Regions from separate parts of the Homo sapiens genome. Here all the other regions are linked to region 1. The links come from fine-mapping of genetic effects on plasma protein levels. A gene starts in region 1. Each other region holds a variant in brackets. All regions are shown on one strand. Distances are between the middles of the regions.

Region 1 (8,000 bases):
GAATGGAGTGGGAACATGGACCTTTAATAGGGTGACTTTTTCTTTTTTATATTTTAGAGACGGGTCTTTGTCCTGTTGCTCAGGTTGGAGCGCAGTGGTGCAATCATAGCTAACTGCAGCCTAGACCTTCTGTGCTCAAGCAAGCCTTCCACTTCAACTTCCCAACTAGCTAGAGCTACAGGCATACACCACTATGCCTGGCTAATTTTGTTTATTTTTGTAGAGATGGGGTCTGCTATGTTGCCCTGGCTGGTCTGGAACTGCTGGGTCAAACAGTCCTCCCGCCTTGGCCTTTCAAAGCACTGGGATTCCAGGCGTGAGCCAGTGCTCTTCTCCTGCAGTGACTTTTTTTTTTTTTTTTTAGACAGATTCTTGCTCTGTCACCCAGACTTGAGTGCAGTGGTGCGATCTTGGTTCACTGCAACCTCTGCCTTTCGGGTTCAAGCGATTTTCCTGCCTCAGCCTCCCAAGTAGCTAGGATTATAGGTGCCTGCCACCACGCCCTGCTAATTTTGTATCTTTAGTAGAGACTGGGTATCAGCACGTTGGCCAGGCTGGTCTTGAACTCCTGACTTGAGGTCATCTGCCAGCCTCGGCCTCCAAAATGCTGGGATTACAGGCGTGAGCCATCGTGCCTGGCCATGACTTTTCAACAGATTTGAAGAAGTGGGGTCCTGAGAAAATCCTGGGTAACAACAGCATCAGAGGTAACAGTTTTTTGTTTGTTTGTTTGTGTTTTTTAGATGGAGTCTCCCTCTGTCACCCAGGCAGGCTGGAGTGCAGTGGCTCGATCTCAGTTTACCGCAACCTCCACCCACAGGATTCAAGCGATTCTCCTGCTTGGCCTCCCAAGTAGCTGGGTCTACAGGCGTGCATCACCATGCCAGGCTAATTTTTGTATTTTTAGTAGAAACAGGGTTTCACCATGTTGGCCAGGCTGGTCTCGAACCCCTGACCTCAGGTGATCCGCCTGCCTGGGCCTCCCAAAGTGCTGGGATTACAGGCCTGAGCCACCCCGCTCAACTGGGAGCAGCTTTTTTTTTTTTTTTTTTTGAGACGGAGTCTCGCTCTGTTGCCCAGGCTAGAGTGCAGTGGCACGATCTCGGCTCACTGCAAGCTCTGCCTCCCGGGTTCACGCCATTCTCCTGCCTCAGCCTCCCAAGTAGCTGGGACTACAGGCACCTGCCAACATGCCTGGCTAATTTTTTGTATTTTTAGTAGAGAGGGGGTTTCACTGTATTAGCCAGGATGGTCTCGATGTCCTGACCTCGTGATCCGCCCGTCTCGGCCTCCCAAAGTGCTGGGATTACAGGCGTGAGCCACTGCGCCCGGCCTTGGGAGCAGCTCTTAAATGGCAAAATTCATGTAGCCAGGTGAGCCTGTGAAAGAACAGCAGGAAGCCAGCCTGTCTGGAATGGAGTGAACCACAACAGGGCAGATGTCAAGGGAGACTGAGCAGGGGCCTTGGGGAGGAGTGTAGATTAAATTCCAAGGGAGATGAGTGACCCTTAGAGGGTATTAGGTGGGTACCAGCATTAATAGTGGATCTGTGGATTAAATGAGCATATTAGCCCTGTTCTGTAGGAGGAAATTGGGGCATAGAGTAGCAAAACTACTTTCCTGAACGCACACAATATTAAACTGCACCCCTGGGAACCCTGCCTTGCTGCTAATACCTGCCTTCTAGCCTAACTGCCACCCTCCCACCCCAGGGGCAGACAGGCAACCTTTCCAGCCTGGGGTGGGGCAGAGCTCACAGCAGGGACTCTGCACTCTGCACGTAGCTCAGGCTCTCATTCTTGGTTCTGCTCTTAAGACTGGGTCCCCACCCTCTTCCCCATAAGACTACACTGGGCTGGGTTCCTTTCAGCTCGAGGAAGCCGTCTTAGGAACTAGGAACTGGGCCCTACACAGGGGCCTCAGCCCCGAGCTTCACATAACTTATCTCCTACAAATTTTACCACGTGCATGGTGATCTGGGTTTGCAGTCCCATTTTACTGCTGAAGAGACCCAGAGACGATCACAGCTCTTAAACGGCATTTGAACCCAGGCTGGCTGGTGACAAAATGTGGGCTTTGCCTTGCATGGCCAGATTTCTGGATGTAGGGCATCCTGGGATTTGCAAGGGACAAACGGCATACCCTACCCCTCCGAAACCGCCTTGAGCGCAAGCAGGAAAAGAGCAGGCACTAAGCATGTGATAAGACCGCCACCGTGTGGCGAAGATGAGCAACCACAGGGTCAGTTTCCCAAGCCTGAGCCTGAAGAAGGAAGGGGGTTGCAGGGGAGGACGAAAGGACAGAGCACACCAACACAGACTCACACCTTTCCCTAATACTTTATTGGTTACCTCTAGGCCTGTGTGCGGCTGGGTGGGCTTGGGGGAGGGCGTCACTATTCAGCTTCTAGGTGGAGGCATGAGAAGGCCTTGGCCTAGCCCTCCAGGGTCCCATACTGTGGAGTTTGGAGGGGCAGGTCTGGCCTTTCCTGGGTCAGCATAGGGCACCCAGGTGGGGGCACAGGTGGACACCCAGCACAGGCACCTAGGCAGGGGCACAAGCTCACTATCCGTTAGCCAGCCTAATTGTGTTTGGAGAAATATTCCTTGCTGTCATCCACGTTGGGCTTAATCGTGTCACTGCCAGGCTTCCAGCCAGCGGGACAAACTGTGGGAAGACACAAGGATGCACATGAAGGCTACAGCCCCAGGTTCAAGGTGAAGCAAAGCAAGGGCCTGTGTTGCAGAAGAAAATGCTGGAAGCAAGTGGTCCAGGCCCAGGAATGTGGATATTAAGATAAACCCTCCAAGCCCAGTTCAGTATTTTTTCTTTTTTTTTTTTTTCAGACAGAGTCTTGCTCTGTTGCCCAGGCTGAAGTACAGTAGCATGATCTGAGCTCATGCAACCTCTCCCTCCTGGGTTCAAGCGATTCTCATGCCCCAGACTCCCTAGCTGGAATTACAGAGGTGCACCACCACGCCTGGCTAATTTTTGTATTTTTGGTAGAGACCATGTTAGTCACGCTTGTCTCGAACTCCTGACCTCAAGTCATCTGCCCGTCTTGGCCTCCCAAAGTGCTGGGATTACAGGTGTGAGCCACCATGCCTAGCCAAGTTCAGTATTTTCTCTTTTTCTTTTCTTCTTTTTTCTTTCTTTCTTTTTTTTTTTTTTTTTTTGAGACAGAGTCCTCCTCTGTTGCCCAGGCTGGAGTGCAATGGCGTGATCTCGGCTCATTGCAACCTCTGCCTCCCGCGTTCAAGTGATTCTCCTGCCTTAGCCTCCTGAGTAGCTGGGACTACAAGTGCCCGCCACCACACCCTGCTAATTTTTTGGTACTTTTAGCAGAGACAGGGTTTCACCATATTGGTCAGGCTGATCTCGAACTCCTGACTTCAGGTGATCCACCCACCTTGGCCTCCCAAAATGCTAGGATTACAGGCGTGAGCCACTACACCTGGCCAAGTTCAGTATTTTCTAGCTGGTGTTTTTCCTACTCTTAATTCTTCAATTTCTTTTTGCCACCCAGCTCTCCTTTTTCTTCTTTTTTTCTTTTCTTTTTTTTTAAGATGGAGTCTTGCTCTGTTGCCCAGGCTGGAGTGCAGTGGCACGATCTCTGCTCACTGCAAGCTCCGCCTCCCAGGTTCACGCCATTCTCCTACCTCAGCCGCCAGAGTAGCTGGGACTACAGGCGCCCGCCACCACGCCCGACTAATTTTTTTGTATTTTTAGTAGAGACAGGGTTTCACCGCGTTAGCTAGGATGGTCTCGATCTCCTGACCTCTTGATCCGCCCGCCTCAGCCTCCCAAAGTGGTGGGATTACAGGCATGAGCCACCGTGCCCGGCCTCTTTTTTTTTTTTATTTTTTGAGACGGAGTTTCGCTTCACTCGTTGCCCAGGCTGGAGTGCAATGGCACGATCTCAGCTCACTGCAACCTCCGCCTCTCAGCTTCAAACGATTCTCTTGCCTCAGCCTCCCAAGTAGCTGGGATTACAGGCATGCACCACCAGGCTGGGCTAATTTTGTATTTTTAGTAGAGACTGGGTTTCTCCATGTCGGTCAAGCTTGTCTCGAACTCCCGACCTCAGGTGATCCACCCACCTAGGCCTCCCAAAATGCTGGGATTACAGGTGTGAGCCACTGCATCTGGCCTCTTTTTTTTTTTTTTTTTTTTTAACCAATACCCCATCTCTTAAAAAAAAAAAAAAAGAGATGGGGTATTGCTATGTTGCCTAGGCTCGACTCAAATTCCTGGGCCTAAGCAATCTTCTGCCTCACTCTCCAGAGTAGGTGGAACTACAGGCATGAGACACAGCATCTACAGGCATGAGACACAGCATCTTCCTGTCTTTTTGGCTCCTTTAGTCCCATCTTTGTCCCTCTGCCCCACCCCTACAGGTTTTTTTGTTGTTGTTGTTTTTGAGATGGAGTCTCACACTGGCGCCCAGGCTGGAGTGCAGTGGTGTGATCTCGGCTTACTGCAACCTCCTCCCGGGTTCAAGGGAGTCTCCTGCCTCAGCCTCCCAAGTAGCTGGGATTACAGGCACCTGCCACCGCACCCAGCTAATTTTTTTGTATTTTTAGCAGAGACGCGGTTTCACTATGTTGGCCAGGCTGGTCTCAAACTCCTGACCTCATGATCTGCCCGCCTCGGCCTCCCAAAGTGCTGGGATTACAGGCGTGAGCCACCGCGCTCGGCCTGTTTGTTTGTTTTTTTGAGACAGGGTCTTGCTGTGTCACCCAGGCTGGAGTGCAGTGGTGCGATCACAGCTTACTGCAGCCTTGACCTCCCAGGCTCAAGTGATCCTCCAGCCTCAGCCTCTTGAGTAGCTGGGACTATAGGCATGCTTCACAAACCAAGCTAATTTTTTTTTTTTTTGAGACTGAGTTTTGCTCTGTTGCCCAAGCTGGAGTACAACGGTGCGATCTCAGCTCACTGCAACCTCTGCCTCCTGGGTTCAAGCGAACTCCTGCCTCAGTCTCTCAAGTAGCTGGGATTACAAGTGTGCACCACCACGGCCAGCTAATTTTTTGTGTTCTTCGTAGAGACGGGGTTTCACCATGTTGGTCAGGCTGGTCTCGAACTCCTGACCTCAGGTGATCCACCTGCCACAGCTTCCCAAAGTGCTGGCAATACAACCGTGAGCCACTGAGCCCGGCCCCTTTGTCCACCTTGGTTGAATGTCAGGCGTTATTTGTCTCCTACCACATTAGAAACATCCTGCAGACAAAGCCCTGAGCTGAATCTTCTTTGGGGCCCTAACACCCATCTGGACAGGTAAGAGGACAGGCAGTGAATGTTTGCATGAGTGACGGAGGCGCTCAGTATGTACCCATGTGTCATGTGTGTATCTGCTCACCTTCCCCATGCTCGTCTGTGTACTGGAAGGCCTGGACCAGCCGCAGAGCCTCATCCACGGAGCGTCCCACAGGCAAATCATTAACAGTGATCTGGCGAAGGACACCCTTGCCATCGATGATAAAGAGGCCCCTGAAGACATCAGGGTTCCCAGTGAGGAGCTGATAGCTCCCACTGCCAGAGACAAGGAAGGGACTACCAACCACCCGCTGCTAGCCACAGGGCTGGGGGCAGAGAAGACATTGTACAGGAGTGGTCCCAGCATCACAGGAATGGGGGGCAGGGCGCTCCCTGAGCCGGGCTGAGGGTCCCACAGTACCTGTAGGCAATGCCCTCATCTGTTTTCAGCACGCCGTAATCCTCAGACAAGCGTCTGGTCACGTCAGCAAGCAGGGGGATGTTCAGGGGGCCCAAGCCTCCCTCTTTCCGGGGGGTGTTGATCCTGGGAGTAGGGGAGACAGAGTTGGGGCCTCAGGATGCCTGGCACAGCAGGGTCCTCACCCTGTGGGCCCAATGTGATAAGCACTGGAGGCCGGAGATAAGGGGCTTTAGAGTAGGCCGCTGGGAGCCTCACCCACCCCACCCTGGGTTGGGTGCAAGGACTGTATCCCCATGGCTGGGAAGACTGAGTTTGAGAGGCACAGCTCCAGCTAAGTGGCTTCACATGTACTTGTAACTTGCAGCATCACCCAGCAGAGAGCCTGTGTTAAGAGTCCCCATCCTCCTCTAGCTGTGTCATGGGGTACAGCCCTTCACTTCGGTGAACTGGAGTTTCCATCTTCATGAAATAGGGCAGCACAGCCTCCCTCCTGGGAACTAAGTACATAGAGTAGATAGAGTTGCATCTGAGTTGCATCTGCAACTCTATATACCAGGCAACTAGTTGTCAAATGCTAATTACTGTCATCATCCTTAAAGACTTGGGCGGCAATGTTTCCATTATTTTCACGATGGGGAAACGCAGGTTCCAGAGGTTGAGCAATGGCCACGAAGCCACACTGCTAGGACCTGAGGGTGTGAGCTTAGCTGCAACCTCCCTCTTTGGCCCCTGCTCATACCAAGCCAGGTGGGTGAACTGAGAGTCCACCGAGACGCCCAGCACTTCACAGCCCAGCTTGCGGAAGTCCTCTGCACGGTTGCTGAACGCGATGATCTCGGTGGGGCACACAAAAGTGAAGTCCAGAGGGTAGAAAAAGAGGACCACGTACTTCCCTGGGGAGGAGGGACACAGAGGAGTTAGGGCCCAGCTTCTCTCATGCACGGCCCCGCTTCTACCTGGGCCCCCTCCGGGCGGCGCTCACCTTTGTAGTCCGACAGCTTCACCTCTTTGAAGGCGCCATCAACCACCGCTGTGGCCTTGAAGTCAGGGGCTGGCTTTCCGATGCGCGCGTTACCGGAGGCCATGACTGAAAGCTGAGACCCCCGCCCGGTCAGTGCGCCCGGGAAGACACTTTGTCCTCCCAACCCAAGGTCGCGCTGCGTGCTGGGCCCTATGACTGAGTCAGCACGGCGGAGGCGACAGCACTAACCCTCACCCTCCCGGGTACCCGGTCTACGAGGCCCGGAGGCTGCCGGAGACCCGCTCTCCTGACCAGAGCACGAGTGACCCAGCCACTGCCACCAGCACCCCACGAGCGAGTCGGCCGGAGGGCGGTGTCGCAAGCCCCCAGCCCAGAAGGAGACAGTGAGGCCCGCACGAGCAGGGGGCGGGAAGTCGGGCGATCAGGCCTGCGCTGCAAGGCTGTGGCCTCGGTTTCCCCCGCAAGGACAAAGGAGGCCACTATAGCGGATGGAAAGCAAAGGCGGCCAGCACTAAAGTCAGGATCGGGCCAAAGCAGCCTGAAGGGGGTCCTCCCGCCAGGTGCACTCCGGGTGTTCATACCTGCGTGGGCAAAGGCTAGACGCACGGACGATCACACGCGTGGACCCGCGTTCTCAGCGCCAAGTGAGCCCTGGGCCGCGAAGCCTTTTATGCCCGGCCCGAACCAAGACGTGCACGGCGCGGGGGAGGGAGCGGACGAGCGGAGCGGTCGGGTCCACTGCGCCCGCAGGTGCGGGGGAGCGTGCGGCCGGGTCCATGCGCCTGCGGGCGGCGGGGGGAGACGCGTTGCCTTCGGCCGGGACCACTGCACCTGCCCGCGTGGGTAATGCGCCCGCCGCAGACTCCGCGCACGACTCCGCCTGGGAGCGCGTTGGGGGCCGTTGGAGTCCAGCATGGCGCGGACCCCGGGGGCGCTGCTGCTGGCGCCTCTGCTACTCCTGCAGCTGGCGACCCCTGCCCTGGTCTACCAGGACTATCAGTACTTAGGGCAGCAGGGCGAAGGTGACAGCTGGGAGCAGCTGAGGCTGCAGCATCTAAAGGGTAACCTCAGGCGGCGGGGATGACGATGCCCAAAGGCTCCCCGTTGCCCTACTTCTCCTGCTGGCTGCAAAGGGACCTTCCTCGGCGGGCTGCAAATCTCCACCCAGCTCCGCACTGGAGGCGTCCCCTTGGGCTGGTTACTTTTCTCTAAGGCTCGGTTTACTCTTGGATATATTGAAATAGATACTGCTTTAAAGCAGCTCCCAGGGGAAGAGAGGGTGTGGGCAGGACACTGAAGCTGTCACTCGGGGATAGGTGCCAGGAAGGGCAGAGACAGAGA
Region 2 (8,231 bases), 120 kb before region 1:
TAAAAAATAAAAAATCAATAAGAGGCTCCCAAGACTTGCGGCCTGAACACCTGGTAGGACAGAGCTACTGAGGGGCTCAGTCTGAGGTAGATTAATTTTGCAGTGTCTAGGAGGCAATTAGAGGCAGGTGGCTGAAGGTCGGGGAGAGGTGACTGAGGGCTTCAGGCAGGACTGAGATGGGGGGTGCCCAGGGACCTCAGAAACCAGGGTACAGCCCAGCCACAGATAACCACTCCCTACCCCTCGCTCCACAGGGTGCGCTGGCTCTGGCCCTGCCTGTGGGTTCCGGTGTGGTGCAGTCGCTGGCCTACCACCCAACAGAGCCCTGCCTGCTGACCGCCATGGGAGGCAGCGTCCAGTGCTGGCGAGAGGAGGCCTATGAGGCAGAGGATGGAGCAGGCTGAAGCCAGGGGACCCACCAACAGGACCAAGGACCGAGACACAGACATGGAAGGACTTCAGATACCATCTTATTCTAGAGACGTAGCTGACCAAAAAGTAGGGGAGGGGCTGGGTCTGCAAATTAATAAATAGAAGAGGGGGTAAGACCTTCCTGGGACCGCAGCCGCTCAGTCCTCGTTCTTCTCATGCATGAAGGCATCCATCTTCTGGGCAAAGGTTTCAGCCACAAGCAGGGGGAAGACCAGGGAGGCGTCAGCATAGACCTGGGTAGGGGGGAACCTGGGTAAGCCATGGGACCCACACTCATCGTCCCAGAGACCCTATGCCCCACCCAGCCAGCGCTTACCTTGACGGGCTGTGCATCCACCCGGATCTTGCCCCAGGAGACAGCCTCGTCTGGTCGGGCACCTGAGTCAGAGCCATCAAACTCCTGGGCTGTGTTGATGTAAACAGCGTAGTCGGCCCCGTTCCGCTGTGGGGAGGCGGGGGCACGGTGGGCCCAGTCAGCCAGTCACAGGAGACAGACACAGAGGGAGGACACCGTAGCCAAACAGGCTGAGAGGTGTGTCCCAGATGAAGGAAGCCCTTCACAGACATTCGCTCCCAGACAGGGCCCATGTCAATGTCTGGGGTCACTAGAGCTGCTGGGCAACGATGGCTGTGTTTCCCCAGACCCAACAGCCAGGTGTCAACAACCCTGCCCCATCTGCAAGGCAGGAGCTGCCAGCAACTCTATCTTCAGAAGCCCTCCAAATCCAACCACCGCCTGCCTCCTGATCCCTGCATGGTCACCACTGTCCTGGACTGGAGTTCTCACTCACCTGCCACCATCTGTTCACCACATGGCCACCAGGGGGAGCATGGGAACCCGAGTCAAGTCCTCTCCCACTTCTCTCAGTGCAAAAGCCAAAGCCCCGCCTCAGCCCACAGGGCCCAGCAGGCTCCCTGTGGCACCTCCCTGCATCACCTCCTGGCCCTCACCACTCCACCTTCCCCTCACCAGGTACCCAGCTGTTCCTGGATTACTTCAGGCGCCCCAGAGCCTTTGCAATGGCTGTTCCCTCTCCTGGGAACTTTGCAATCCAGAAGCTCAATGCTAGTACAGCAGCACAAACTCCTGGCACGGGAGACAACCACATAGCTCCTGGGAGATGCCTCCCCAAACCCCTGCTCCCAGCTCACACTTCCAGAAGCCTCCTTCCAAAACCTCTTGTTGGACAGCACCCCTTTCTCTTCTCATGCCATCATTTAGTATTCCCCGTAGCAATGACTGCCCCCTGACGTGGATGTCACTTGTTTGCTATCTCCCCTACTAGAACATCAGTCCCGGGGAGCAGGGATCCTGGCCTGTCTAGTTCATGCTGTCTACCCAGCACATGGCATAGGCCCACCACACAGCATGTCTGCAGAGTGGGCCGAAGCGCCACCCCCACTCACCATGAGGTTGGCATTGGCAATGTGGTGCTTGACCACGCCCCCGCCCAGAATGATCATCCCAGTGCACTTGGCAAAGATGGCCTGTGTGTTGATGAGCCTCAGGTCTGGGGGAAGAGCGCCGAAGTCAGGCCTTGGACTCAGCCAGCCCTCCTTCCCCTCTCCTCTGTGGCCCTAGCGCCTCACCCTCAACGATGTCCAGGACCAGGCCCGGGTTCTTGTAGGAATGGAAGAAGATCATGTCGCCCAGCGAGCCGTCTGTAAGTGCGGGACTAAACACAGGGATGTGGTTCTGCAGAGAACATGACAGGACAGTGGCTGGAGCTCAGAGCCTCGTCTCCATGCTGGCTATATGACTATCTGACTGTGGATGGGGTGCCTAATTTCTCTAGGACTGTTTCCTCAATTATAAGCATAACAGAAACACCTCTCACAGATGAGGCCTATATGAGAAAACCCACAGAAAACACTTAGTATAGTGCCTGGCACATAAAGAACCAGCCTATTCTTAGCTTGCTGAGCTGTTTCTCTCTCTTTTTTTTTATTCCCTGAGACGGAGTTTCACTCGTTGCCCAGGCTGGAGTGCAATGGCACTATCTCAGCTCACTGCAACCTCTGCCTCCTGGGTTCCAGTGATTCTCCTGCTTCAGCCTCCCGAGTAGCTAGGATTACAGGCGCATGCCACTATGCCCAGCTAATTTTGCATTTTGTTTTTTTAGTAGAGACAGGGTTCCACCATGTTGGCCAGGCTGGTCTTGAACTCCTGACTTCAGGTGATCCACCCGCCTCAGCCCCCAAAGTACTGGGATTACAAGCATGAGCCACCGTGCCCGGCCGTCTAATTCTTTTTTAAAGAGCCAGCTTGTGGCCGGGCGCGGTGGCTCACGCTTGTAATCCCAGCACTTTGGGAGGCCGAGGCGGGTGGATCACCTGAGGTCAGGAGCTCGACACCAGCCTGACCAACATGGAGAAACCCTGCCTCTACTAAAAATACAAAATTAGCCAGGGGTGGTGGCACATGCCTATAATCCCAGCTACTTGGGAACTTGATGCTGAGGCAGGAGAATTGCTTGAACCCAGGAGGTAGAGGTTGCTGTGAGCCAAGATTGCGCCATTGGACTCTGGCCTGGGTAACAAGAGCAAAACTCCGTCTCAAAAAAAAAAAAAGAGCCAGCTTGTGCAACATGGTGAGTTCCCATCTCTACAAAAACAATTAGCCAGGCATGGTGGCACGCACCTGTAGTCCCAGCTACTCAGCAGGCTGAGGCAGGAGAATCGACTGAGCCCAGAAGCTCAAGACAGCAGTGAGCCATTATTGTGCCATTGCACTCCAGCCTGGGAAACAGAATGAGACCCTGTCTCGTAAAAAAGAAAGAGTAAGTAGGCTGGGTGTGGTGGCTCACCCCTGTAATCCCAGCACTTTGGGAGGCCAAGGCGGGTGGATCACTTGAGGTCAGGAGTTCAAGACCAGCCTGGCCAACATGGTGAAACCCCATCTGTAGAAAAATACAAAAATTGGCCGGGCATGATGGTGGGTGCCTATAGTCCCAGCTACTCAGGAGGGTGAGGCGGGAGAATCACTTGAACCTGGGAGGTGGAGGGTGCAGTGAGCTGAAATCACACCATTACACTCCAGCCTGGGCGACAGAGCAAGACTCTGTCTCAAAAAAAAAAAAAAAAAAAAAAAGACTATGTAGCTTTTTTTTTTTTTTTTTCAGGTTCTGATTCTCTAATTAAAGGGAGTGGGTAGCTCTTATTTTATAGCATCTGGGAGTGTGGGACCCTGAGCCAGGCCCCAGGAGAGTTGCTAAGTGTTGCCTCTACTGTTCCAGAGATAGTCTGGGAGGAGCATAAGGATGCTGAGGCCCCACTAGTTATCTGTGTGACTTCAGACAAAATTACCTAGCCTGGCTGGGCACAGTGGCTCACGCCTGTAATCCCAGCACTTTGGGAGGCCAAGGTGGGAGGACTGCCTGACGCCAGGAGTTCAAGACCAGCCTGGGAAACACAGGGAGACCCCCATCTCTACAAAAAATTTTTAAAATTAGCTGGGCATGATGGCATGTGCCTGTGGTCCCAGCTACTCGAGAGGCTGAGGTGGGAGGACTGCTTGGCCCCAGGAGGTTGAGGCTGCAATGAGCTGTGATCACACCACTGCACTCCAGCCTAGGTGACAGAGCAAGATCCTGTCTCAAAAAAAAAAAAAATTACCACGCCTATCTGTGTTTGAGTCTCCTCATCTAAGAGTGAGGATGCTGAGAATAACAGTACTGAATCCCCAGGAGGCTGGAAAGATGAAATAAGTTAACACATGCCAAAGTCTGGCTACTTTGCTCCCGCTTAGGTCCTCACCTTCTGGGCCCAGTAATACACGGACTCTGGGTTGTTGATCTCCTTGCCCAGCCGGGCGATCATCTTAGAAGGCGTCCACTTTACACCCTAGGAGAGGATGTGACCTTCAGGCCATGCCTCCCCTGACTCCCACTGAACTGGCCCCTCCAGGTTGCCCCAGCCCCACCTCTGTGTTCTGCTCCATCACCATCTGGTCCAGAATGGGCATCAGCCAGTCCTCAAACTTGCAGTAATTCTCATTGGGCACCAGCAGGTTTCCGATCCTGAGAACAGGAGGCATGTAGGCATCAGGCCCCAGGACCCTTGGTCCAGCTCCCCTGCCCAACACCACTCAGGGTTCTCACCTATTGATCCCGTTCTCCCGGAGCTCCTTCCCCCTGAGGCTAAACTCGCCCAAGTATGTGGGCGCCAGGCACTTGATGAGGTCTTCCTCCACGCCGCCAGCTGTGGTCACCAATACGTCCACCTGCAGCCACAAGGCAGTGAATTTGGCCCAAGAAGGAAGCCCCTGCCCTCATTCTGGGCAGAACTTCTAACCTCATCCTTGTCCAGTGACTCTTATGAGGGAGCTCTGCTACAAAACAAAACTTGATTCTATTCCTCTGCTTATAACAGACCCCTATCTGCCCATCTCACTTAAACGATCAATAACTGCATTGCCCATTGACCCAGAGGCCAAGGCCACGGCCTCACCAGGTCCCCACCATGTTGTGCTGCACAAGGTAGCGAATGGTCTCACGGATGCCTGAACTGATGAGGTTGGATGTATATCCCAGGAAAATGGTGCAGCTGGTAAGTGGGCGGCGGCTCTGGGTCAGGTCCGCGTGCTGGTCTTCATCCTGTGACAGTGGTTCCAGCTTCTTCTCGATCTGTGAGTAAGGGCCAAGTCAAGTTAAGCACTGGCCTTAAATCCCAGACTCAGGACTCCAGGTGGGCTCCAGAAACAGATTTCACCCCAGGCCCTGCACATTCAGGGATACAGGACCAGTTCTACAGGGGACCAAGGAACATCTCCTGTGTAAACTCTGCCCCTTCCCAGACCAGATCTCAAGACACACGTTCAGGATTTGCCCCCACCCTTTTTTTTTTTTTTTTGGACGGAGTTTCACTCTTGTTACCCAGGCTAGAGTGCAATGGCGCGATCTCGGCTCACTGCAAGCTCCACCTCCCGGGTTCAAGCGATTCTCCTGCCTCAGCCTCCCGAGTAGCTGGGACTACAGGCGCGCACCACCATGCCCGGCTAATTTTTTGCATTTTAGTAGAGACGGGGTTTCTCCATGTTGGTCAGGCTGGTCTCGAACTCCCGACCTCAGGTGATCCGCCCGCCTCGGCCTCCCAAAATGCTGAGATTACAGGCATGAGCCACCGTGCCCGGCCTTTTTTTTTTTTTTTTTTTGAGACAGAGTATCGCTCTGTCACCAGGCTGGAGTGCAGTGGCGCAATCTCAGCTCACTGCAACCTCCACCTCGCGGGTTCAAGCGATTCTCCTGCCTCAGCCTCCCGAGTAGCTGGGACTACAGGCGCGCAACACCATGCCCGGCTAATTTTTTGCATTTTAGTAGAGACAGGGTTTCACCATGTTGGCCAGGCTTGTCTCGAACTCCTCTTCTCTTGATCCACCCGCCTCGGCTTCCCAAAATGCTGGGATTATAGGCATGCGCCACCGCGCCCAGCCAGCCCCCACCCTTTTAGGAATCAGAGAGCATCTCCTTTCAGATCCGGTCCCTTCCCCGCTGGGAAAAGCAAATCTAAATTCAAGAACCGCCCAGACTTAGGCTCCTCCTCCCATATCCTCCCTTAATTTGTCTTGCCCCAGGCTCCGCCCATTCCAGAAAGCTTTAAATGTACCTAGAACCCGCCCCCACACCAAGAATCAGTCCTCGCCTCCTCAGGTTACCGTACCAGCATGTAACTACCAGAGTGCAAAATCCCCTTCCCAGGACAGAAACTCCCGCCCAGAATAGGTCCCGCCTTCCTCCAACTATTGGGCAACTCAAATAAAAGACATATCCCCTCCACTGGAAACGCTGCCCCCGTCTAGTACCGCGTTGGTTCTACAAGCCACGCCCCTCCGCGTCCCTAGAAATTCCGCCCGGTCCTCACCATGGCATTGACTTGCTGTACAGCGCGCCCGAAGTTGGTTGCTTGGAAGCCGGTGGTGCCGAAGGCCTCCAGCAGTGCGCGGTAATTCACACCGCGGTTGAAGTCGTAGCCCCGGACCTGGGTGCTTTCGGGCGGCAACGTCGAGCTGTGCTTTAGCACGGCGGCCAGCGCCCCCGCTGGCGCCTCCCGTTCCAGGGAACCTTCCATGCGCCTATAGCCGGCTCTCGAGTCAAAGCTGCCCCTAGGCCGGGCTTACGGCGGCCCAGAAACGCGTTAAACCCCGACGCGCGCGTCTCCGCAAGAGCACAGGAAGTAGGGAACGTGCTTTGGGCGAAAGACCGGAAGTTGGTTTATCACGTGACCATTTTTAGCCCCTGTAAACCAGGTCGCCGCCATTTTTGTGCGTGTGTTCCGTAATACGGAAGCCGCGAGGAGCCTTTAGGCCCTTTCTTTCTTTTTTTTTTTTTTTTTTTTTTTGAGACGGAGTCTCGCTCTGTCACCCAGGCTGGAGTGCAGTGGCGCGATCTCAGCTCACTGCCAGCTCCGCTTTCCGGGTTCACGCTGTTCTCCTGCCTCAGCCTCCCGAGTAGCTGGGACTACAGGCGCCCACCACCACGCCCGGCTAATTTTTTTGTATTTTTAGTAGAGACGGGGTTTCACCTGGTCTCGATCTCCTGACCTCGTGATTCGCCCGCCTCGGCCTCCCAAAGTGCTGGGATTACAGGCGTGACCCACCGCGCCCGGCGCCTTTAGGCCTTTTCTTCCTTTTTTTTTCTTTTTTTTTTTTTTGATACAGGGTTTCGCTCTTGTTGCCCAGGCTGGAGTGCAATTGCCCGATCTCAGCTCACCACAACCTCCACATTCCGGGTTCAAGCGATTCTCCTGCCTCAGCCTCCCGAGTAGCTGGGACTACTGGCATGCACCGCCATGCCCGGCTAATTTTGTATTTTTAGTAGAGGCGGGGTTTCTCCCTGTTGGTCAGGCTGGTCTCGAACTTCCGACCTCAGGTTATCCGCCCGCCTCAGCCTCCCAAAGTGCTGGGATTACAGGCGTGAGCCACTGCGCTTCGGCCTTTACTTGTTTTCATGTGTTCTCGACTTCCCATGAATGAAGATTCTTTTTTATTTTTATTATTTATTTATTTAATTTATTTTTGAGA[CAA/C]GAGTTACACGCTCTTGTTACGCAGGCTGGAGTGCGGTGGTGCAATCTTGACTCATTGCAACCTCTGCCCCCCTGGTTCAAGCGATTCTCCTGCCTCAGCCTCCCGAGTTGCTGGGATTACAGACACCCACCACCAGGCCTGGCTAATTTTTTATTTTTAGTAGAGATGGCATTTCACCATGTTGGCGAGGCTGGTTCTGCCCTCAGGTGACCGCCCGCCTGGGCTTTCCAAAGTGCTGAGATTACAGGTGTGAGCCACCGTCCCCAGCCAAAATTCCTATTTTAATGCCACCTGCTGGAGACCCACTGCTTGGCCCGGCACTCGCCCATTCGTTTCTGTTCTGTCCCCTCGGGAGGGGAGGATGGTTTTGTTGTTGTTGTTGCTGTTTTGTTTGTTTGTTTGTTTGAGCTAGAGTCTTGCGCTGTCTCCCAGGCTGGAGTGCAGTGGCACGATCTCGGCTCACTGCAACCTCCGCCTCCCAGGTTCACGCCATTCTTCTGCCTCAGCCTCCCCAGTAACTGGGACTACAGGCGCCGGCCACCACGCCCGGCTAATATTTTGTATTTTTAGTAGAGACGGGGTTTCACCGTGTTAGCCAGGGTAGTCTCGATCTCCTGACCTCGTGATCCGCCCGCCTCAGCCTCCCAAAGTGCTGGGATTACAGGCATGAGCCACCGCGCCTGGCCTGCTGCTATTTTTTGATAGGGTCTCACTCTGTCGCCAGGCTGGAGTGCTGTGACGCGATCTCGGCCCACTGCAACCTCTGACTCCCGGACTC
Region 3 (8,264 bases), 280 kb before region 1:
TCAAATAAAGAAATTCAGATGTGAAAAAAAAGGAGTTGGCCGGGCATGGTGGCTCACACCTATAATCCCAGCACTTTGGGAGGCCAGGCGGGTGGATCACCTGAGGTCAGGAGTTCGAGACCAGCCTGGCCAACATGGTGAACCCCGTCTCTACTAAAAATACAAAAATTAGCTGGGCTTGGTGGCGGGCACCTGTAATCCCAGCTACTCGGGAGTCTGAGGCAGGAGAATCGCTTCAACTGGGGAGGCAGAGGTGACAGTGAGCTGAGATCGTGCCATTGCACTCCAGCCTGGGAGACAAGAGCGAGACTTCATCTCAAAAAAAAAAAAAAGAAAAGAAAAGAAAAAGAAAAAAAAGGAGTTGGCTGGGTGTGGTGGCTCACGCCTATGATCCCAGCACTTTGGAAGGCTGAGGAAGGAGGATCACTTGAGGTCAGGAGTTCAAGACAAGCCTGGCCAACATGGTAAAACCCCGTCTCTACTAAAAATACAAAAAATTAGCTGGGCATGGTGGCGCATGCCTGTAATCCCAGCTACTCAGGAAGCTGAGACAGGAGAATCACTTGAACACGGGACGGGGAGGTTGCAGTGAGCGGAGATCGCACCACTGCACTCCAGCCTGGACGACAGAACAAGACTGTCTCAAAACAACAACAAAACAACAAAAAAAACAGGGTCATTCCAACTTATACTAAAGAAATAGAAAGAATTATAAAACAGACTATTATGAACAACTACACACCAATGAATTGGAAAACCTAGAAGAAATAGATAAATTCCTGGGCACGTACAACCTATCAAAATTGCGTCGTGAAGAAATAGAAAATCTGAACAGACTAATAAGAAGTAATGAGGTTAAATCAGTAATAAAAAGTGTCCCATCAAAGAAAAGCCCAGGACCTGATGGCTTCACTGCTGAATTCTACCAAACAAACACAACTAAAAAGTACAGGCCAACATCCCTGATTAACATAGATGTAAAAATCCTCAACAAAATACATGCAAACTGAATTCAACAGCACATTGAACAGACCATTCACCCTGACCAAGTAGGATGTATCCCATGGGTGTAGGGATAGTTCAACATATGGAAACCAATAAACGTGATACATCACAGTAACAGAATCAACAAGAAAAAAATATCATTTCAATATATGCAGAAAATGACTTGATAACATTCCATATATTCATGATAAAAACTCACAACAGGGCCGGGCGCAGTGGCTTATGCCTGTAAACCCAGCACTGTGGGAAGCCGAGGCGGGATCATGAGGTCAAGAGATCGAGACCATCCTGGCCAGCATGGTGAAACCCCATCTCTACTAAAAATACAAAAAATTAGCTGGGCGTGGTGGCACATGCCTGTAGTCCCAGCAACTCGGGAGGCTGAGGCAGGAGGATCACTTGAACCCAGGAAGCAGAGGATGCAGTGAATTGAGATCGTGCCACTGCACTCCAGCCTGGCGACAGAGTGAGACTCCGTCTCAAACAAAACAAAGCAAAACAAAACAAAAAAAACTCACAACAAATTAGGTATAGAAGGAACATATCTCAACACAATGAAAGCTTTATATGACAAACCTACGGCAAACATCATACTGAACAGGAAAAAAATGGAATGCTTTTTCTCTAAGATCTGGAATAAGATAAGCACTCCCACCACTTCTAGTCAATGTTGTATTGGAAGCCCTCATCAGAATTATTAGACAAAAAAGAACAACAAAGGAAGGGAGGGAAGGAAGGAGAAAAGCCAACCAAATTGGAAAAGAAGAAGTAAAATTACATTTTTGCGGACAAGATTGTATATATAGAAAACCTTGCCGGGCACGGTGGCTCACGCCTGTAATCCCAGCAGTTTGGGAGGCTGAGGCGGGTGAATCACAAGGTCAGGGGTTCAAGACCAGCCTGACCAACATGGTGAAACCCCCGTCTCTACTAAAAATACAAAAATTAGCTGGGCGTGGTGGCAGACGCCTGTAATCCCAGCTACTCAGGAGGCTGAGGCGGGAGAATTGCTTGAACCTGACAGGCGGAGGCTGCAGTGAGCCAAGATCGTGCCACTGCACTCCAGCCTGGCAACAGAGCGAGACTCTGTCTCAAAAAAAAAAAAGAAAAAGAAAAAAGAAAACCCTAAAGACACCACCAAAAAATTGTTAGAACTAAAACAAATGCAGCAAAGTTGAAGGATATGAAAATCAACATATAAAAATCAGTAGTGGCCCCAGCCTGGCCAATATGGTGAAACCCCATCTCTACTAAAAATATATAAAAAAAAAAAAAATTAGCCAGGCATGGTGGCAGATGCCTGTAGTCCCAGCTACTCGGGAGGCTGAGGCAGGAGAATCGCTTGAACTTGGGAGGCAGAGGTTGCAGTGAGCCGAGATCGTGCCACTGCACTCTAGCCTGGGCAAGAGAGCGAGACTCTGTCTCAAAAAAAAAAAAAAAAAAAAAAATTCAGTAGTGTTTCTATATGCCAACAGCAAACTATTAGAAAAAGGCATCAAGAAACCAATTCCATAGATGATAGCTACAAAAATAAAATATTTAGGAATAAATATAACCAAAGAGGTGAAAGAGCTCTACAATAAAAACTATAAAATGCCGGTGAAATAAATTGAAGAGGACACAAATAAATAGGAGGATATTCTGTGTTCATGGACTGAAAGAATTAATATTTTTCTTTTCTTTTTTTTTTTTTTGTTTTGAGACAGAGTCTCACTCTGTCACCCCAGGTTGGAGTGCAGTGCTGTGATCACAGCTTACTGCAGCCTTGATGTTCCGGGCTCAAGTAACCTTCCTGCCTCAGCTGGGACTACAGGCACACACCACCACGCCCAGCTAATTTTTTAAAAATTTGTTGTAGAGACGAGGTCTCACTGTTTCCTGGGCTAGTCTCAAACTACTGGGCTCAAGTGATCCTTCTGCCTCTGCCTGCCAAAGTGCTGGGAATACAGATGTGAGCCACCATGCCCAGCTTAGAATATTCTTCAAATGTCCATACCACCCAAAGCAATTTGCAGATTCAAGTGTGATCCCTATCAAAATACAAGAGCCATACTTCACAGAAATCGAAAAAATTATCCTAAAATTCATATGGAACCACAAAAATAGCCAAAGCAATCTTGAGTATGACTTCACAATAGACTACAAATCTAAAGTAACCAAAAAAGCACCGTACTGGCATAAACATAGACAGACCAGTGGAACAGAATAGAGAAACCAGAAATAAATTCACACACTTACCAACGATTTTTGACAAAGGTGCCAAAAACACAGACTGGAGAAAGGACAGTCTCTTCAATGAATGGTGATGGGAAAACTGGATTATCAACATGCAGAACATTGAAACTGGACCCCTATCTTTCACCATATACAAAAATCCACTCAAAATGGATTACGGACTTACATGTAAGACTTGAAACTGTAAAACTACTAAAGGAAAACAGTAAAATTCTACATGACCTTGTCTGTGCAAGGACTTTGTGGATAAGAACTCAAACACACGGGCAGCAAAAGCAAAAACAGACATGAGATTACATCAAACATCTCAATCCCAGCATTATCTCACTCATTCCACCTCTGGGAGTTACTCTGGGGCAGTCTCTGGCTGGATTCATCTTTCTCTGTGCTCTGCACAGACCTAGTACCAAGGGGACTAGAAGCAGCATTTACTTGTTCACTAAAAAAGGGGTATCTGCAGGAAGGTGCTGCAGTTCAGGCTGTGGCCA[C/G]GCTGGGGCATCAGTAGACAGGTAAAATGTAGTAAGATAACCCACAGAAGGTGCATCGTGACGTGCTTGACAGTAATTCTGTCTGAAGCGTTTTGTTTTGCTTTGTTTTGTTTGAGACAGGGTCTCACTCTGTCACACAGATTGAAGTGCGGTGGCATGATCTCAGCTCACTGCAATCTCCGCTTCCCAGGTTCAGGCGATTCTCCTGTCTCAGCCTCCCGAGTAGCTGGAATTACAGGCGTGTACCACCACACCCGGCTGATTTTTATATTTTTAATAAGAGACGGGGTTTCACCACGTAGGCCAGGCTGGTCTTGAACTCCTGACCTCAAGCTATCTGCACACCTCGGCCTCCCAAAGTACTGGGATTACAGGCGTGAGCCACTGTGCCTGGGCATAAAGTGTTTCCATTAGCAGTACTCATGTTGCGGTATTATTGTCATCATCATCATTTTCATAAAGTAGAAAGTAAAACTTCTCTCAATGGTACCCATAATTTACACTGAAGATGTAACTATTCCTTGAGAACAAGATAGAACCTGGCCTGGGAAACAGCACTAATGCTTGTAAATTAGTTCTGTGACAACTATTCTGATTTCTTCTATGGTTGCTTATTCTTCCATACCATGTAAGTAAATTCCGTGATTATTAGTTTTGGGTGATTCATGCTTTCCCCACTAGAAAGAACAATTTGGTTTATTACGCTATCTTCCACCCGTTTCTCCAACACCAGTCACTATTTCAGTCAGAGCATGAAGAAAAATAATTTTGGAAATGGAAACCTGATGTTCTGCCATTTAAAGGTACTTCATGAAATCCACTCCAAGAGGGATCACTTGCTTCATTTCCTTGCAGAGTTGTTTTTTGTTTTTTTTTTTTTTTTTGCGATGGGGTCCCACTCTGTCGCCCAGGCTAGAGTGCAGTGGTGCAATCTTGGCTCACTGCAACCTCCGCCTGCTGGGTTCAAGCAATTCTCCTGCCTCAGCCTCCTGAGTAGCTGGGATTACAGGCGTCAGCCACCATGCATGGCTAATTTTTCGTATTTTTAGTAGAGTTGGGGTTTCACCATGATGGCCAGGCTGGTCTCAAACTCCTGACCTCGTGATCCATCCGCCTTACCCTCCCAAAGTGCTGGATTACAGACATGAGCCACTGTGCCTGGCCCATTTATTTCTTTATTGTGCAAGCAGTGACTTATTTATCCACTGCTTTTTTTTTTTTTTTTTTTTGAGATGGAGTCTGGCTCTGTCACCTAGGCTGGAGTGCAGTGGCGTGATCTCAGCTCACTGTAACCTCTGCCTCCCAGGTTCAAGCAATTATCTTGCCTCAGCCTCCCAAGTAGCTGGGATTACAGGTGTGCACCACCACACCCAGCTAATTTTTCTGTTTTTAGTGGAAATAGGGTTTCGCTGTGTTGGCGAGGCTGGTCTCGAACTCCTGGCCTTAAGTGATCTGCCTGCCTCGGACTCCCAAAGTGCTGGGATTACAGACATAAGCCACCACACCAGGCCTGGCTCTCCATTTCTTGAACACCACCTTTACCCCAGGTACAGAATTAGTGGTAAATAGTTACACATTACCTATTACATAAACTTTCCATACCTAAGAAGTTCTCTCCCACCTTTTCTGGACACTATATGCTGCTATTTCTTCTCATATTCTTAAAGATTTCCGAGCAAAGAATTTCTATTTGCTTAAATTATCAGATATATATTTGATATACATGTCTGTGAATAGTGTGCAGAGGAAATTAAAAGTATCCCTCTTCAATAAAGGGAAGTGGTTATCATAGGCCCTGGGTCTGGGAGTGAGGTCCAGGTCTACAGTGAAGGGGGGAGGAGACAGGGAAGTCAATCCTGGGGATCAAATCTAAATGCCTACTAAAATCCAAATGGACTGTGTAGGAACAGGTCCCTCATGGATAGAAAAACGAAAAAAACAGTGCTGAGAACAAGTAGGAAAGAGACCTAGAGACTAGGCGCAGTGGCTCACGCCTGTAACCCCAGCACTATCGGAGGCCGAGGCGGACAGATCACTTGAGATCAGGAGTTCAAGACCAGCCTGGCCAACATGGCGAAATCCCGTTTCTACTAAAAATACAAAAATTAGCTGGGTGTGGTGGTGCGCACCTGTAATCCCAGCTACTCAAGAGGCTGAAGCATGAGAAGCCTTTGAATCTGGGAGGCAGAGGGTGCAGTGAGCCAAGATCTCACCACTGCACTCCAGCTTGGGCGACAGAGCAAGACCCTATCTCAAAAAAAAAAAAGAGAGACCTAGAGTGTCTTGGTATGCTGAAGGTCCCACAAGGTCTATGCAGTACTGTGGTCTTTTCTCCCTTTTTTGTGTGTAAAACATACATAAAATTCACCATCATAATCAATTTTAAGTGTACAGTTCAGTGCCATTAAGAACATTCATACTAGTGTGCAACCATCACCACCATCCACCTCTGGAACCCTTTTTATCTTGCAAAATTGAAACTCTATGCCCATGAAATAACTATCCATTACCCAATTTCCCTAACCTTTGGCAAATGGTATTGTACTTTTTCTATCAATATGACTACTCTAGATACCTGATATAAGTAGAATCATACCGTATTGTCTTTACATGAATGGCCCATTTCACTTAGCACGTCAAGGTTCATCTTGCAGCATATTTGTAAATTTCCTTACTTTGTAAGACTCAGTAATATTCTCTTGTATGTATAAACTTCCTTTTGTTTATTCATCTGTTGATGAAAACCTGAGTAGTTTCCAGAGTTTACCTATTGTGAATGATGCTATGTACACAGGTGTACAAAACCTATTTGAGACTTTGCTTTCAATCTTTTTTGTTTTGTTTTGTTTTTTGAGACGGAGTCTTGCTCTCTCACCCAGGCTGGAGTGCAGTGGCGCGACCTCAGCTCACTGCAAGCTCTGCCTCCCGGGTTCATGCCATTCTCCTGCCTCAGCCTCCCGAGCAGTTGGGACTACAGGCGCCTGCCACCACGCCCGGCTAATTTTTTTTTAGTAGAGACGGGGTTTCATCATGTTAGCCAGGATGGTCTCAATCTCCTGACCTTGTGATCCGCCTGCTTCGGCCTCCCAAAGTGCTGGGATTACAAGCGTGATCCACCACGCCCGGCCCTGCTTTCAATCTTTTTATTTTCCCAGAAATGGAAATGCTGATCATATGTTATTTCTATATTTTAATCTGGGGATCTGCCATACTGTTTTCAGCAGGCTTATACCACTGTACATTCCCAGTGATAGTGCACAATGTTCTCCAACATTCCACATCCTTGACAGTATTTCTTGTTTTCCATCTTTGATACTACTAATCCTAATGAGATGCTATGTATGTCTTGAGTTTGATTTGTATTTCCCTAATGACTAAAGATGTCGAGCATTGTTACGTGCTTATTGGCCATCTGGGTATCTTCTTTGGAGAAATGTCTATTCAAGTCCTTTCCTCCATTTTAAAATTGGATTGTGTCTTAGCTTGGGTTGCTAAAACAAAATACCATAAATTGGAAAGCTTAATTAATCAACAAACATTTATTTCTCATGGTTTGGGAGGCTGGGAAGTCCAATATCAAGGCACTGGCATAGTCCATGTCTGGTAAGGGCCTGCTTCCCGGTTCAAAGATAGCTATCTTCTCACTGCACCCTCTCATGGTGAAGGGCAAAGCTAGCTCTCTAGGGATTCCTATCAGGAAACTAATCCCAATTACAAGGCCTCCATCTTCATGATGTCCTCCAATCCTAAAAACCACCAGAGACAGGGCCTCCAAATACCATCACATTGTGGGGGAGAGGGGGGGCACGGGGGTAAGGTTTCAACATATGAATCTGAGGTGGCATACACTCAGCCAAAACATTACACCTCTGGCCCCCAAAATCCATGTCATCACATGTAAAATATATTCATCTCATCCCAAAGGCCTCAAAAGTCTCAGTTAATTCCAGCATGAAGCCTAATGTTTAAACTCAAACTCCAAAGTGTCATCTCAATATCACATCACTCAGATATGGATGAGACTCAATTCATGCTGAGGCAAAATTCTTCTTCAGCTCCGAACCGGTGAAAACCAAACTAGTCATGTATTTCCAAAATATGAGACAGGCACAGGATAGAGATTCCTATTCCAAAAGTGAGAAACAGGAGAAAGGGGTGAGCTCCCAAACAAGTCTGAAACCCAGAAAGCAAACTGAAGACTTTCCATATTCTTTAGATATGTAGATACTTGTAGACCTGTCCTCCACTATTCATTTTCACAGGTATTCGAAGGTTGTGTGATAAATGAAAGCTTTCCCACATTCTTTACGTAAGGTTTATCTCCATTATGAGCTCTTTCATGTCTTTGAAAGGAACTGGAATAACTGAACGTTTTTCCACATTGCTTACATTCATAGGGTTTTTCTCCGGTATGAGTTCTTTCATGTATTCTAATGGAACTGGCATAATTGAATGCTTTCCCACATTCTTTACATTCATAGGGTTTTTCTCCAGTATGAGTTCTTTCATGTGTTCGGACAGAACTAGGACAGTCAA

Alleles and levels. Alleles are on the strand shown, and positions count from the first base shown. The strength of an association depends on the size of the effect and on how common the allele is.
With allele C in place of CAA in region 2, the plasma level of the protein whose gene starts at base 7,301 in region 1 is lower (weak association).
With allele C in place of G in region 3, the plasma level of the protein whose gene starts at base 7,301 in region 1 is higher (moderate association).

The links. PIP is the posterior inclusion probability: the model's chance that the variant is causal. The UK Biobank Pharma Proteomics Project read protein levels with antibody pairs (Olink). The fine-mapping took linkage between variants from a reference panel, not from the people measured, so its PIPs are less certain.
Region 2: its variant is fine-mapped to the plasma level of the PRDX2 protein (UK Biobank, PIP above 0.99).
Region 3: its variant is fine-mapped to the plasma level of the PRDX2 protein (UK Biobank, PIP above 0.99).

Annotation. Positions count from the first base shown.
Region 1 is chr19:12,794,500-12,802,499 of GRCh38, forward strand. PRDX2 (peroxiredoxin 2) reads right to left here and starts at 7,301. Exons shown (of 6, transcript NM_005809.6): 1 at 7,241-7,301; 2 at 6,660-6,771; 3 at 6,417-6,570; 4 at 5,678-5,800; 5 at 5,360-5,490; 6 at 2,324-2,667. The coding sequence starts at 6,762. The coding sequence ends at 2,582. THSD8 (thrombospondin type 1 domain containing 8) reads left to right here and starts at 7,570. Exons shown (of 2, transcript NM_001386800.1): 1 at 7,570-7,720. The coding sequence starts at 7,573. RefSeq lists enhancers at 1,720-2,129, 6,379-6,578, 6,906-7,464, silencers at 7,064-7,249, 7,259-7,648 and a cis regulatory region at 7,112-7,661.
Region 2 is chr19:12,675,269-12,683,499 of GRCh38, forward strand. WDR83 (WD repeat domain 83) reads left to right here. Exons shown (of 11, transcript NM_001099737.3): 11 at 255-564. The coding sequence ends at 404. DHPS (deoxyhypusine synthase) reads right to left here and starts at 6,612. Exons shown (of 9, transcript NM_001930.4): 1 at 6,292-6,612; 2 at 4,893-5,057; 3 at 4,533-4,654; 4 at 4,355-4,451; 5 at 4,189-4,275; 6 at 2,023-2,128; 7 at 1,840-1,943; 8 at 749-874; 9 at 449-665. The coding sequence starts at 6,498. The coding sequence ends at 570. RefSeq lists enhancers at 1,139-1,188, 6,263-6,786, 6,427-6,721, 6,787-7,309, 7,833-8,231 and cis regulatory regions at 5,843-6,343, 6,369-6,903. The variant CAA/C (reference allele first, on the strand shown) is at 7,451.
Region 3 is chr19:12,518,472-12,526,735 of GRCh38, forward strand. It overlaps ZNF564 (zinc finger protein 564), which reads right to left. Exons shown (of 4, transcript NM_144976.4): 4 at 6,902-8,264. The coding sequence ends at 7,975. Among named protein-coding and RNA genes, the nearest start is that of ZNF564, 29 kb to the right of the region's middle. RefSeq lists a silencer at 3,564-3,858. The variant C/G (reference allele first, on the strand shown) is at 3,729.